2 separate regions of the Homo sapiens genome follow, and region 2 is linked to region 1. A link means that fine-mapping ties the variant in region 1 to the expression of a gene that starts in the linked region. Tissue or cell type: whole blood. Region 1 holds a variant in brackets; the other region holds the start of a gene. All regions are shown on one strand. Distances are from middle to middle.

What was found. PIP is the estimated chance that this variant, and not a neighbour inherited with it, causes the effect.
Region 2: it holds the start of LCP1, and the variant in region 1 is fine-mapped to the expression of LCP1 in whole blood (TOPMed, PIP 0.92).

The regions. Positions count from the first base shown.
Region 1 is chr13:46,255,317-46,263,427 of GRCh38, reverse strand. LRRC63 (leucine rich repeat containing 63) reads right to left here. Exons shown (of 10, transcript NM_001282460.2): 8 at 1,436-1,519. Among named protein-coding and RNA genes, the nearest start is that of LINC00563, 38 kb to the left of the region's middle. The variant T/C (reference allele first, on the strand shown) is at 3,086.
Region 2 is chr13:46,179,009-46,187,119 of GRCh38, reverse strand. LCP1 (lymphocyte cytosolic protein 1) reads left to right here and starts at 4,943. Exons shown (of 16, transcript NM_002298.5): 1 at 4,943-5,009. RefSeq lists an enhancer at 4,851-5,280.

The sequences.
Region 1 (8,111 bases):
GAGGTGGTAGGATCACTTGAGGCTAGGAGTTTGAGACCAGCTTGGGCAACATAGTGAGACCCCCATCTCTACAAAATATAAAAAAATTAGCGAGGCATGCTGGTGTACACCTATAGTCCCAGCTATTCAGGAGGCTGAGGCAGGAGAATTGTGAGTCCAGGAGTTCAAGGCCGTAGTGAGCTATGATCATACCACTGCACTCCAGCCTGGGCGACAGAGTGAGATCCTGTCTCTAAAAATTAAAAATAAAATAAATTCAAAAATTTAAAAAGAGAACAAACAGCATCCTTAAAAAAATAGGTAGGAAAAGGGGAAAGTAAATAAATAATAAGTACAAAGTAAAATGAAAAGCAAAAATTAAATATGTTGGTCATAATAAATATGAACAGACTGAATTCTCCTACTAAAATATAGAGATTGTCACATAGGAAATTAAATAATTGATCTAAATATTTTAAAAGCAAAGGTAAAATTATCTCATTCTGCTAAATGGAAGATTACGTTCCTAGGAAACAAAATAAAATGTAGTAAAACTAAATCAGAACTAACAGAAGAACTTGGTTACACACATTAGTTTTAAGTTAATGTAAAGAAGTACATAGTTTTTCTCTATTCTGTACTGACAATAATTAGAAACAAGTGGAAATAAGAGAAATATTACATTACATTCATAGTAACAATCACAATCATAAAACACTTAGAAAAGGTTATTAAGAAAAATATGACGTGAGTCATAAATTCCTATGAAGAACATAAAACAAGATCTGAAAAAATGAAAAAAAAGTTTTAGAGTAGAAAAATTGATCAAAAATATAAATTCTCCCAAATTTATGAGTAAACTCTATGCAATTGCAATTAAAATTCTAACTCTGTGATTATGTGTGCTGCTGGATGTGCTAGAAATTATACAAAATGATCTGAAAGATTATGTTCTAAAGAGAATAGTTAAGAGACTATTACTGAAAAATAATCTCCCTACTAGTTATTAAAAATTATTCTGAAGTCACAATCAAAACAGTATAGTACTGACCTAGAAGGACATAGATAAACTTCAGACTTTTATTAATGTTAGAAAGAATTGAAGCTTTGCATTAAAATTATATTTTGTATTATTAGCATTTTGCGTAAATGTATTTCCTCACAAAAAATAAATGAAACATAATAAGAGCCACAGGTACACACACAGACAAATGGACATAAGTAGCTTATCGTTCTGTTAAGTAGTCATCTGCACTTTCTTTAAATAATTTCTGGAAATGTTATGTCTTAAAAATACTGTACACCAATCATTCAAATTACATGTTTGGTAAACTTTGTACTTCACAGATTACATTTTATGGCTATTAAATAAATGAAAGGATTGATTTTCTCTATCACAATCATTATTAAATATATAATTAAGGGGCATATAACTTTCTGTGTACTTCCAAAATACCTGAGTTTCTGAATTTCATTTGGAATAAAAGTAAGTTCATTATAGGAAACATCAAGTTCTTCAAGATAAGACAAGGAAAATAACCTTAAATAGAAAGAGAAAATTAATTGTAGAAATGATTATGTATCACCACTGGGAATAAATAAGTACTTGAGTAAGTAGGCAGGAGTATAGAAACCAGATTTCTAAGATCTTGAAATTTATATGGACTTCTTTTCATTATAGATCGTGTAATTACTATGAAAATTCCTAAGAATTACTCATCTATCCATTAAGACCAGTTTGAGATTTTTGGAGTGGACAAAGCCCTATTTAGAAAAATTTTCATTATCACTAAGATACTTTTTTGTTGTTGTTGTTGCATTAGTTTCCTAACAAATTACCATAATCTGGGTGGCTTAAAGTAACAGAAATGTATTTTCTCACAGTTCAGGGCGCCAGAAGTCGAAATGAAGGTATTAGCAGGGCTGGTTCCCTTCATAGGCTCTGAGGGAGAAACTGTCCCTTGCTTCTCCCCCAGCTTCCAGTGGTTGCCTGCCATCTTTGGCATTCCACGGCTTGTGGAAGCATAACTCCAACCTCTGCCTTTGTCTTCACATGCCTTTCTTATAGGGACAATAGCCATTGAATTTGGGGCTCACCCTTATCCAAGTTAGTATAAGTATGACCTTATATTAACTAACTGCATCTGCAAAGACGCTATCTCCAAATGAGGTCACATTCTGAGGTTCTATAAGGACATGAATTTCCGAGGGATGCTATTCAACCCACTACAATTGCATTAAGACTTTTCTAGTAAAATACCTTTAATCTTTCTTTCCATCAAGACAAGTACTTAAAGGTGAGAACCAAAGAATACAAACACTCTGCAAAAACATAGTTGTGCTGTCAGAAGCCCTGACTCCTAGGGGTTGGATGGAAGTGGGAATTGCTTCTTGAAGACTGGAATTGAAGGGCTCAGTATCATAGTCATCATAATCCCTAGTAAACACCCCCTTCTCTGTATGTGCTGTTCTCAAAGACTTTCTTGTTTTCCATGTAAATAAAAGGTGAGAAGTTATTTGTATGATTTTTAACTAAGGCATCATGAGCAGAATTTTTCGCCAACTTCTTACTGTCTTAACATGGCATATAAAGGTCCTCATGATCTGGTCCCATGCTACTTGTCCAGCTTGCCTCTCACAATCCCCCATATTCCTCTGTGGTCCAGCATTTATTTGCTAAAATTCCCTGAATTAACCAGTTATCACATATCTCTAAATAACACGTAAAATTTCCCCAAGCTTGACTCTGATCATTGTCTTTTCATTTTTTGTCTTGGCTCAGATGTCATCTCTTCCAACAAACTCTTCCCAAATCCTTCAGACTGGGTGAGATGCCTCTTCTGTACTTCTCTGCTTACTCTCTCATAGTACCCATCACATCGTGCAATAAACGTCTGCCTCCTAAAATTATGAGCTTCTAGAGGGCACGGATTCAATTTCATATTTCTATACATCCAGTGCCTTACATGCTGTCTAGTACATCGTAAGTGCTGAGTAAATCATAACTGAATGAAAGGAATGGTGACCCCAGTTAATTTAAAATAATTTGCTCTGAGAAGTTAATGAGACTGACTAGGAAAACAAAGGAAATGCCTATTCAATTCAG[T/C]GTTCATCTCTGACTTCTTATCATCTCTGTAAAGAAAATGTTAATACCATTTGCTCTATCTTTCAATTCAATATCATATCATTTTCTTGCCTCAGGCAGTTTCTGGAGTCATTCTATCTTCCCTATTACCTTGGCTCTGGCAACCTAGTTTGGTTCCAGGCTTTCACTATGGATGACATATTCCTGCTGATTGTGAGATGTAACAGGTGTAGGCAGCACTGAGGAAGCTGAATAGGTTCTAGAGTTGAAATTTATGTCATCTATATATGATTTTTACAGAGAAAATCTGTTCAGACAGCCTGTTTGGTCTGATACTCTATGTCCCACCAGTACCAAATCTATCACATTTTTTAGGATATGTAAAACTTTTTACATTTATTTCATTGCTTGATTTATTAGCAAATTATTGGCCAATGAGCTGCCTAAACTAGAGCCCTACTGTTAGCTTGCAAGATTAGACTAGCAATAATAATTTCATGTATTAACAGTGATGACCACCACACTGATATAAATATTTATTAAAAGCCTACTATATGGTAATTTAGAATGATCTTTTAACATACCAGTGTAGGATTGTTTTTTACAGGTTAAAAAAATGGAAGCTATAAGAGGTTAAGCAATGTATCCAATTTGGTATGAAATAAAATGTAGCTATCCCTTTTCATCAGATATGTGGAGGCAAGGTAATTTAATCCCCTTCTTTAATAAATAACAATATGGGAAAATAAATGTGTACAATTTCAGATCTGCTGTTAAGACACGGCTTTCAAATAGGCTGTTCGGTTCTTTTTGTTCCAAATAGTTTCTCTTTCCCGAAGAACCTACCTGCCAATTAAAGTAAATTGAGTCAAACAAGTAAGGCAAAGATTTGACTCCCTCAGTTGAAGTAGCTATTTCCTATGTCATTTTTCTCCTGCTATCCACTGAGAAAAAGATAAAGACTTTTTGTTTTAACCTTTGTGACAGTTGTTTCTGCATAACCTCAGGGCATGAGTCTAAAACATGTCTCTGTCCTTCACCCCACCTCCCTTTTTCTCCCTTTTTTATCTTTTCTACAAAAGCTTTGGGAACAGGAAAAAAAAACATTTGGATTTTTGAAGTGATTTATTATCTTCATTTTATAAGAGAGTTGAAAAGACAAATCAAAGAGCTTTTCATAGTAATAAAGTTCTAAGCATAACATGGGAGTGTTGATCCACTGGCCACTAATAGGAGGCCCCTGTTCTTTCTCCCACAGAAGCTGAGCTTTCCTGCCTCCATGCTGCCTCACACAGTATGCCCTAAGTTGCTCAAAGCAAAACCTTAGGAACGAAAATGTAGGCCTCAGTAAATGTGTGCTTTACTCAAATAGAACTTTTTTCTTTATTAACTTCTAATTTGCCCTATATTGAAACAATCAATTGTTACATAATTTCAAAAATATTGCATATTTTATTTTATTTTAGAAATTTAGGTCAAGGAAAAGAGACTAATCTGTGAAAATAATTGAAAGGATTTTAAAAATAATTTACAAGATTTTTTTTTTTTTTTTTTTTGAGACAGAGTCTTGCTCTGTCACCAGGCTGGAGTGCAGTGGTGTGATCTTGGCTCACTGCAACCTGCAACTCCCCTGGTTCAAGCGATTCTCCTGCCTCAGCCTCCTGAGTAGCTGGGATTACAGGCACACGCCACCATGCCCAGCTAATTTTTGTATTTTTAGTAGAGATGGGGTTTCACCATGTTGGCCAGGATGGTCTCGATCTCCTGACCTCGTGATTCGCCCACCCCGGCCTCCCAAAGTGCTGGGATTACAGGCGTGAGCCACCATGCCCAGCCAATTTACAAGATTTTCTTACCTAATTTTTGTAACATCCTTGAAGACAAGTATAAGTTTTCTAAACTTTCAGATGGAAACTGAAGTTAAGAGTAGGTCAGGGCTGGGTGCGGGGGCTCACGCCTGTAATCCCAGCACTTTGGGAGGCCGAGGTGGGCAGATCACAAGGTCAGGAGTTCAAGACCAGCCTGGCCAATATGGTGAAACCCCGTCTCTACTAAAAATACAAAAAATTAGCCAGGCATGGTGGCGCATGCCTGTAATCCCAGCTACTTGGGAGGCTGAAGCAGGAGAATTGCTCGAACCTAGGAGGCAGAGGTTGTGGTGAGCCAAGATCGTGCCATTGCACTCCAGCCTGGGCAACAAGAACAAGACTCCGTCTCAAAAAAAAAAAAAAAAAAAAAAGAGTAGGTCACTGGCTTGCTAGAGTTTGTAGCATATATGGGACAGAACTTGCCTCTGAAAGTGTCTTGCTTTTTCTACTCTATCACTTTGAGTCTCATGAAACTAGAAAGATCTTGTTAGGAATGGAAAGATAACAGTGAAAGTACTCCATTACACTTTTAGTAAAACTTTGAGAAGGTACCAAAATAATATATCTGGGAAAAAAAATATATGCATATTTTAACATATGGAAACTATAAGAAAAAGACTAATAATGAAAAGAATTAAAAAGACAATCTTTTAAATACAATGCTTAGCCACCAAAATAAACAACCATTTTTCTATGTTAGATAATATCTAGAAAAAATATGTATCTTAATTTAAATCCTAACACTAGGGCTTCAAACAAATTGAGTAACCAATTGTTTTATTTAATAAAATACTGTTAAATTAGACTTGAACTGCTAAATTTACATCACAAACCCCCACTTTGTTCCAGTGTCCCTTTCTCAATAAGGCCTACCTTAGCTATCCCACTTAAAATCACACTCTCACTCCCTTTTACTGTTTGTTCTTTTTCATATCACTTATTACCTTCTCACATACTATATAATTTATTTATTACATATATTGACTGTCTCCTCCTGGGGGAATGTGATCCCACAAGAGTTGAAATCTTTGACTGGTTTTATTTTAGTTTGCTGTTACTGCCATTAACAAATTGCAACACAAACAGTGGCGTACAACAACTCAGATTTATTAATTATAGTTATATAGGTCAGAAGTCTGCAAAGGTCTCACTCTACTAAAATTAAGGCATCAGCAGGACTGCATTGCTATCTGGAGGCTCTAGGGAGAATCTGTTTTCTTACTCATGCAGGCTGTTGGCAGAATTCAGTTCTTTCCGGCTGTAGAACTGAGGCCCTTGTTTTCTTGTTGGCTGTATGCTGAAGGCCATTCCCAGGTTTTCAAGCTGCCTCATTCCTTGACTCATGGCTCCCTTCCTCCATCTTCAAAACCAACAAAAGCAAGTCAAGTCCTCAGGTGGTATCTCTCTGACAAATGCTTCTGCATCCCCCTTCCATTTTTAAGAGCTCATGTGATTTGATTGGGACCACTCAACTAATCCAGAATAATCTCCCTACTTTAAGATCAGCTGATTAGAACCCTTAATTTCATCTCCAAACTTAATTTCCCTTTGCCATGTAATATAACATATTCACATGTTCTGGTAGAATATGAACATCTTTGGGGACCATTATTCGCCCTATCACAGTTCATCCCTAAAGATTCACATCTATCCCACATGCAAAATACATTCACTTATCTCAATTTCCCGAAAGGTTAACCTTTACAGCATCAACTCAAAGTTCAACATCTCATCTAAATCTCAAAAGTCCCATATCTCATCATCTAAATTAGGTATAGGTGAGGCTCCAGATATAACCCATCCAGAAGCACAACTTTTCTCCATTTGTGGATCTATGAAATTAAAGAAACAAGTTATCTGCTCTCAAAATACAATGGTGAGACAGGCATAGGATAAGTTATAGATATTCTGGTTCAAAAGGGAGAAAATGAAAGGTAAACAGGAATTACCAATTCCAAGCAATTTTGAAATAGGACTGAGTAAACTTCATCTGGTTTCAAGGCCTGGGAATAATCAGCAGCAGCTCCCAGCTCTGCCACCTGCTTTCCAGTTTCTGCCCTCCTGGCTTCTGGCTCTGTCTTTTAGAATCACAGCTCCACCTTCGGTGCTCCTGGTTTCATCCTCCCCAGTTCCTGGCACCACCCTCTGAATCACCCTCCCTTTTTCATGAAAGTTGGCACATATATTCAGCTGTTTCCTGCCCATGGAATTTTGGAGATCTGACAGCCTTTTTTCATTTCATACTGTCTTTGTCCTTCTTAATACACTCTGGCAACATTTCTATTAGTATAAAATCTTCAAGAACCTAGTGGGTTTCCCATGTATATCATGGGTATTCATTCCATAAGACAAAAGACTTGTCCACAAATTTCGTTCCTAGTTAATCCCATTTCTATTTTTGACTTTGCTGAAATGGCTGAGGCCATGTGACATGAGGTCATCATTAAAAAGGAATGGAATACTGATATATACAACATGGGTGAATCCCCAAAATGTATGTTGAGTGAAAGATGTCACACTCAAAAAATCATTTGTTGTATCAATCAACTTTTATAATTTTCCAGAACAGGTGAAATAAGTCTATGATGTTAGAAGTCTGGGAATTGACTAGAAATGTACATGGGGACATTTCTAGGGTAAACTTTCTAGGATAATGGGAATACCCCATATCTTGTTTTGGATAGTAGTTATATGGGTGCGTATATTTGTTAAACACTTTAAATCAAATACCTAAGATTTGTGCATTTTATTGTATATAAATTATACCTAAAAATTTTAGAAAGAAGGAAGACTAGGAGGAAAGATGAAAGCATTGAGGTTACTAATAACTATATATATATATATATATATTTGAGGCAGGGTCTTACTCTGTTGCCCAAAGCTCACTGCAGCCTCAACTTCCCAGGCTCAAGTGATCCTCCCACCTTAGCCTCCTATGTAACTGGGACTACAAGTACATACCACTGTGCACAGCTAATTTTTCGTATTTTTTTGTAGAGATGGGGTTTTACCATGTTGCCCAGGCTCTATGTATTTTTTGTTATAGTAAAATATAGATAACATAAAATCTGCCATTTTAGCCATTGTTAAGTGTGCCATTCAGCAGCATTAATTACAATTACAGTATTATGCAACCACCAGCACTATATGTATTTCCAGAACTTTCCCATCATCCCAAA
Region 2 (8,111 bases), 76 kb after region 1:
GAGAGGGTCAAATATTTATCTCTCAAGTAGGAAGGAAAAAATATATGAACATATATATACATATACATAAATATATGTAGGTATCTGAACCCAATCAAGATACACCATAAGCATAACATCTAGAAATATGTAATAAAATAACAGAAGAATTAGCTAAAACTGTTCAAAATACTTGGTTCTAGGGAATGGGAATCAGAGGTGAAGGAGTGTGTCGGGAGACTGGTGTTTCATGAGAAGCCTTGAGGTAATATTTGACTTCTAAAACCAAATACATATATTACTTTGATTAATAAATTAAAGAAAACATATGTCCACACGCACAAAATGTACACAAATGTTAATTGCAGCATTTTTATAATATCAAATAGTAGGCAGCATCCAAATATCCATCAGCTGATGAGTAAATAAAATGTGATATATTCATACAGTGGAATAGCATTCTTCCATAAAAAGGAGTGAAGGTCAGGTGCAGTGGCTCATGTCTGTAATCCCAGCACTTTGGGAGGCCGAGGCAAGAGGATCACCTGAGCCCAGGAATTCGAGACCGGCCTGGCCAACATGACAAGACCCTGTCTCTATAGAAAAAAAAAAAATTTAAATATCCAGGTGTGATGGTGCGTGCCTGTAGACCCAGCTACTCAGGAAGCTGAGGCGGGAGGATGGCTTGAGCCTAGGAGTTCAAGGCCTCAGCAAGCTATAATCACACCACTGCACTTCAGCCTGGGCGACAGAGTGAGCCCCTATCTCAAAATAAATGAATAAATAATAAAATGAAGTAGTGACATGTTACAACATGGATGGACCTTGAAAACATGCTAAGTGAAAGAAGCTCGTCACAAAAGAGCATGTATTGTGTAATTCCCTTTATATGAAATGTCCCGAATAGGCAAATTTATAGAGAGAGAAAATAAACTAGTGGTTGGCTGTGGCTGGGAATTTGGGAGATGGGGGTGAATGGGGAGGAATCTCTAACAGGTACAGAGTTTCTTTTGGGGATGATGAAAATGTTCTGGAATTATATAGTGTAATTGTTGCACAACTCTGTTAAAATACAACAAACCACTGAATTGTATACTTTTTAAAGGTGAATTTTATGGTATGTAAATCATATTGCAATGAAGCCATTATTTTAAAAATTAAAGAAAAAAATTAACAATCATACCTAATTCATAGAGTTGTTGTGAGGAATAAATGAAATAATGGATGTTAGGGGTCTAGTCCAGAGCCTGACGTAAATATTAAGCGATTAGTTAACACGTACATAGGATATACTACGTGCCAGGCACTCTTCTAAGTTCTTTACATATATCAATTCACTTACCCCTTGCAACAACTGTCTAAAATAGACACTGTTCTTACCCCCATTTTATAGACTAGGAAACTGAGGCCAGTGCAAGTAACTAATTTGCCCAAGATCACACAGCTAGTACAACAGTAGAGCTGGAACTTGACCCCAGCCAGCTGGCCCAGCATCTTTACTCTTCACCACTTTGATGCTCCCTCTCTCTGCCTCCCAGGTCCCATGTCTGGGTTAGTGCTGTGTGCTCCTAGGGACGCTGCTTTTCGTCTGTTGTGCTTCCAAGTAGATAACTCTTCACTTGCCTTTTTTCCTTGTCTGTGTCTTCAACTACAGTGGACATTCTACAATGGCAAGGACTGTACCCATCTTAATTCATCTTCATTCCCTGCCCATGATATGTTGGGATGAGGGTGGGCTGCAGAGTGAAGCAAAGGTGTTTTTCTCTTCATACAAATCCCATGAGTGCATGGAGAGGAAGTGGGGAGAGCTGAAGATGCTAGCATTAAGATGCTAGAGAAACACGAGACAATTGATGGAGCAAGATATCTAAGGAAGTAGAATATTAAGAGTGAGATAGTGTTGAAACACTGACCTTGGGAAGAAAGAAGAATGCCGCTTCCATTAAGACTGAAAGAGAGGAGGAAGAGGTGGATATTGTGGAAGTAGAGAGGAAGCTCATACCAGACGACTTGGATCATCTCAGTCAAGAAGGGGCAACAGAAGAATCTTGGGCCAGGACAAAGCATAGGAGGGTGAAGTGGAAGGTTGAGGCAAGAGGAGAGAGTTTAGAATAAATACCCAACTTTTTGGGGTCTGTGATCTCTTTACTAATACAATGGACCCTTCTCCCAGAAAAAAAGTACATACACACAAAATTGTGCATTTAGTTTTAGGGGTCTATGGACTCCAGGTTGAGAATGCCTGTTCTCAAGACTTAGTAAAATTGAATAGAAGTATTTCTGAAAGTAATTTGAAGTCAAGCATCTTGACTTTTTAGCATTCCAAGTTTGTGTTTCTGTGACTTTCCTCAGCAATATTTAGAGGCCTGAGAGTAGCAGGTGATCTGATATCTGGGACTGAGGCCAGAGGCTTCAGGGCAGGAGAGGGTGGGATGAAGTCTGAGAGGGTGGTAGGGCTTAGAGGAAGGCAAAACCCAGGCCAGGAACAGGTGGCAGTGGAGGCTCATAGAGGGTGGGCTGAGAAAGGTCCACTCCGGCTTCAGGCCATAAGGGGGCGCACTGTCTGTACAGAACATAAAAACGTAAGAAAACCAAAAGTCAGTCTTCTGTTTACTAGTACTATGCTGCACAAGCAATTTAAAACACCAACAGCAAAAAAATACACTTCTCTGAAAAAGTCTTGGTCTAGGACCTAAACAATTGCCTGAAACTGGGTAGACTTACACCAATGAGAGGCAGATAAAGAGATTAAGATTGAGGGAGTAGGGCAGGGCTTGCAATGGTGCCGGCCAGGATGTGGCTGAGGGGGTGTGGGTGCCTGCCGTGGATGCTAGGGTAGAAGACGACTCTATTAACTGGGTGGCTGTAAGCAGTACCCAGGTCAATGCCTTTCATCTTCTACAACCTCGACGTTGCCTGGAATCCTAAATCTTTTTCTTCACTTAACAAACATCACCTCTGCTCAAATCTGCAACTGCTTTGATATCACACTGCCTTTTTCACCCCTCTATTATAGATGGCATTTATTTACTTACATGTTTTTTCCCCACTAGACTATACTCCTTGAGAACAGCGATTGTGTCTTATTTATTTCTGAATCACCAATTCAGACAGGCATGCAAACACTTGCTGAACCAATGCACAAATATATTTTGCTCTTCTTCATAGATTCCTCCGGCCTCAGATGACCAGGCACCACTAGATACAGAACACTGTGCTTTCCTTCTCCAAGGTAAAGGAATAAATATCTGTTCCCCTTCATGAAGTGTTACTGTTGGGCCTTTATGCCATCCTGAAGCCACCAGGATGTGGAACCAGATCAGGGAGGTCCACAGTTACAACCCCTTGTATCTGTAACACCAGCAGGACATTATCTACAGAGTCCTGCTGCAGGGCCCCGAATGAAGACAGCATTTTGCTGCTTTGTAGCGTGAGCAGTGCTGTAACAGTGATGCATGGATGTTCCTCTGGTGTCCTGAAAGAATGTAGGTGCTTCTTGAAAGCTCTCTGCAACTTATTAATTGGGAGTGATTATGCGATGGAGAAAACAGAGTCCCATCACCCCCTCAGTCTTCCCTGGGAAATCACAAGAGGGCTGATAGCTCTCTGTGAGGTGAACCGTTTCTAGAATCCCCACCGTCTCGTCCTGTTCTTCCGCCCACCCAGTTCCTCAAGATAGCCCCTGTGGGCTTCTGATGAAGTCACCACACCACTGGCTAATGAAGTAGATAAACCAGAACAGTTTGGTTTAACATTTAAGGTCAGAAACAGGAACTTTCTAGAGGAGAAATCAAAAAAGCAAAAGAAGTATAAGGGCAGCCCTCCAACCAGTCAGAATACCGTGACCACCTGAGAGGCCCGTGGCCCAGCGGACACGGACGCATGTCAACTCTGGAGCAGATATCTTCAGCGCAGCATCTGACCTGGGAGTACAGCCACATACCCTCATTCCTAAACGGCAGATTGACTACTGGAGTCACACACAGTCTCCGGGCAATGTGGAGACATGTCTAATATTTAGTCAACATAACTCAGGGTGCCACAGTCTTCACAACTGTTGTGAGCACTTGAGGATGCTCCATTTGAAGATAGGAATTTGCCCTCAAGCATCTGGGGTTTGGGTACAGAACAGAGCTTCCCCTGCCACCACCTGCTAATTTTATAAAATGTGCATTCAAAAAAAAATCCTGCCTGTAAGAAGGAATTAAGCTACCCATTTAAATATAACAGCTGCCTGTGCAATCTACTGCTGCTCTTTATAGGAAACGCTTAAATAATTGAGATACTTAATTGGGTTAAAGAGATCCCTAGCACATAGATGTTCTATAAATAAAAGAATGAGTAAATAATCTAGTAACCTTCCTTTTCATGTCCTTCACTTAAAGAGATCGTTCTGTTTTGTTTGCACCAATAAGATCACTGTTAGAGGACTCCAGAGAGGTTTGATTTCAGGTGGGGTGGGGCTTTCCCAAGGAAGTCCCTTTTCATTTGTTTCAGGTGTACTGCCACCTTTTTCCCTGGCTCTTTCACTAAAAATGAAAAATTTGTTGATCTTTGCTGTAAGTAGGTAGGCATCTGGGCTTTGCTTTTGCAACTAGAGTCAAAGAAGTCAAGTTATCAGGCTGATCTTGCCTTGCTATCTAGAATCAGAAAGGTTTAAGTAGCCCAGGGACTACTCAAAGACAGCTGGAGGAGAAAGGGAGAGAGAAAAATGCTTATAAAGAGGTGGGCAAAAGAGCGGGACCTTGTCTCAAAAAAAAAAAAAAAAAAGAGGAAGTGGTAGGAGGTGTCTGAATTTCACTGTGACCTGTTCTGTCAGGTGATTTTTGGTGGGGCGGGGACATGAAAAAAAAGTTAAAATGTCCTTATAAAGACAAAATCTTTTTCTTTCCTGGCTGATGATTTGTCATTCTAGTCACTTCCTGCCTTGTGACCACACACCCAGGCTTGACAAAGCTGTTCTGCAGATCAGAAAGAAGGGGTTCCTGGTCATACACCAGTACTACCAAGGACAGCTTTTTTCCTGCAAGGTAAATGTTCTTCATGTGTTTTTGTTGGTTTTAAGCGCTTGTGATGCACTTCGGCACTGTTTCTGTGGATTGTGGGTTTTGCCTTCAGGGGACCAGAGATCTGAGCATGTCACCTGAGACCTCTGTGATTCCTGCCACTGTCTAACTGGCCAGGACATCTGCCGCCACCTCGCGTGGCCATCCAAGATGGAGCACCTCGGCTCTCTGGGCTGGGTTCTTCTCAACTTATCTGCAGTTATCACCCCTGCCCAAAATTAAGGTTTCTTTTTCCTTTTAAAACCAAACCATGTTCTGGTTTATTTCTATTGCTCTATTTCACGGAGGCTATTTACTGTGATTTTATCTTCTTTAAAATGTTTTCAGGAAAAGCGCGTATTGATAATTTAGATTGTATGGCTTATTGGCCCAATGGGGGTAGTTTAATTTTAGTTCCTGCGGTTCTGTTTTTCTAAAAAACTTCTTTACAGTACTTTAGTGGATAAATTATCTAGAGTCATATGTTACTGAATGTGATACTGGTTATTTGAGTGATTTTTGGCGCCAAGGGTTTTTAATGGGTGTGCTTTATAACCACATGGAATTAGAGGTTTTCTCTTTTCCATTTGTTCTCTAAAAATAAAAGCAATTTGTATAATGCTTAATTGTAGTGTTTTTGTAGGATTGTCTGAATTATTTGTTATGCTTATGACCATATCAATGAATATTCACTCAAATTCTGGGAGAAAGGCTTTTATCTACAATAGAAATTTTTACACAGTTGATATGGGATATTTATTTCAGAAACTGCCCAAACATAGACACTTTGGATTTTGTAGTATAAGCTTTTACTTAATTACCACTATCACATAACACTAAGAACCATTGACAAATGATAACTATAAAAGCCATTCAGACTGGAAATGCGAACATTAATCAGGATGTTTATCAAAACCGAACTTTTCTTTTACACAGCAACTTGTTTTCTAAAATTACTCTGTCAGAACTATCAGTAAGCAAATAAAGGTGGCTTATCCACACACATCTTGATTTTGAATTTACATACATTTGTCATAAGTTTGGTTTCTATTAAGTATAATTGTTTAAAGAATGTCTGTGTAGACAAATTTGAATAGAATTAATCATTTACCTATAAATGTGAATTTCTGGAAACTGCAAAATGTGACCACCAATGTTACTTTGCACATCTCACCTGAATAGTTTCAAACAAGCAAAAATGTGAAACTGAGATAAGAGGGACTTGAACCCCGTAAAAGAACAGACTAAAAATATGTTGTGTCTTATTTTAAGTAAAACTATTAATGAGAATAAAATAAATTCGAATGTGAAGGAATGTCAGTATTTTTCTTATATTTACGAAGGAATAAAAAAGAACTATGCGAAAGTTAATTCAAAATATAAAGGTCCCCTGTTTAAAGTTAAGTTTACATTGCTAAAGCATCAACCCCATATGTTACAAAGATATTCCTCTTCATTCTAGCTCACCCCCAGGAACATCAGGGGAAAAATCTTCTAGGTCTTGCCCTTTGAACAAGCACTGCTGTGGTGGGATGGAGTTGTGCCTAGGAGGACATTTCCTTAGCAATCCCAGAGACCCTTTTCTTTGTAGCATTTAAATTTTTGTCTCTTTTGTAAATTATGCCTTGAAACAATTGGTAATTTGGGAAACAATTTCAGTGCTTTAACTTCATTTATAATTCTATCTCTGAACCCTTTGGGGAAGGGAAGACCAACAAGTAAAGTCTCATTTACTTGTTGTTAAAGTACCATTTAACTTGGAGAGGACAGGAAATTAATAATAGCACTCAATAATTATGAGCACGTAGTGTAAGCAGCTACTCTTTATGCATTACCTCGTTTAATCCTCTCAGCTACCTTTAGAGATAAGGAATGGGCTAGATAATTGAAGGAACCGGCCATAGGTCACTGGGCAGTTGGGGTGGGGGGCAGTAGATGGCCAGGATTTCAGGCTCCTACTGACTGTGTGTGTTACAGATCCTCCCTTCCAGGCCAGCATATTTTTCTCAGAGGTAGGTGATTATAGACTTTTATTACTGAAGCTAGCTAACAAGATCTTGGCACTCACAGTTTTAAGAGAGAATAAAAGAGAGAGAGCAAGAGAAAGAAGAGAGAGAGAGAGAGAAGAAAAACTTTGTAATAAATTTACAAACATTTTTATTTTTATAAATAAGAGATACCATTGCAGGTTTTATATAATAATGGGCTGAAGAACTATTTTTAAATTAATGCATAATTTTACTAAAGAATTGTGTGCCTTTACAAACTTGCCTCGACCCACTTCCCCAATCTTATTTCTTGTCACTTCCTTCTGTTCAACCTCCCACTACCCCATCCCCTCCCCCGCCACTGCTAACCCACATTTTGGTGCACCAGACCACAAGCCACCAGAAAGTTCCATTCTCTTTCACCTTTTTTCACTGCAACTGTTTCTTTAATTGCATTCTTCTTTATTTTTAAAACTTCTGATCATTTTTCAAGGCGGACTTCAAGAAACATACCCTTTTGGAGGCCTTCCCATCTTCTCCCTGCCCCCACTAAATGTTTCTTTGGTGTGCATTTGCTCAATGCTTTGATCTTGGAGTAAGTATAACATTAATCACATTGTCTTAGTTTCAAGTACTTATTTGCTGACAGACCTGAGCTCCTTCTCCATCTTTCCTGGCACATGTAGATACTAAAGGCATTTATTGAATTGAAAATTTGTCACAAGTATTTTTTTTCTCAGCTTCTTACATACGCATGAAAGACTTTGATTGTACTTATTAACTTAATATTTACTGAGTTTCCATTTATTGCTATGAATGAAGATGCAACAATAATATAATATTTTGCATTCTACCATGTTTCAGCTTTACCGAAGCCCTAGTCTCATTTTAGCTTCAAAGTATCATATAGACATTGACCTCAAGAAATTTAAAAAATTGTACAATGACTAACAAACAGGGAAAATTACAATCTCATTTTTTTAGTATAAATACATTGGTTGGGCCAAAACTTAGCTACCCTTGCCAAAACTATATACCCAATAATGGGCCTCTTTGATGACAAAGAACACAAGGGCAGTTGTTAACTTTTACTTAGTCA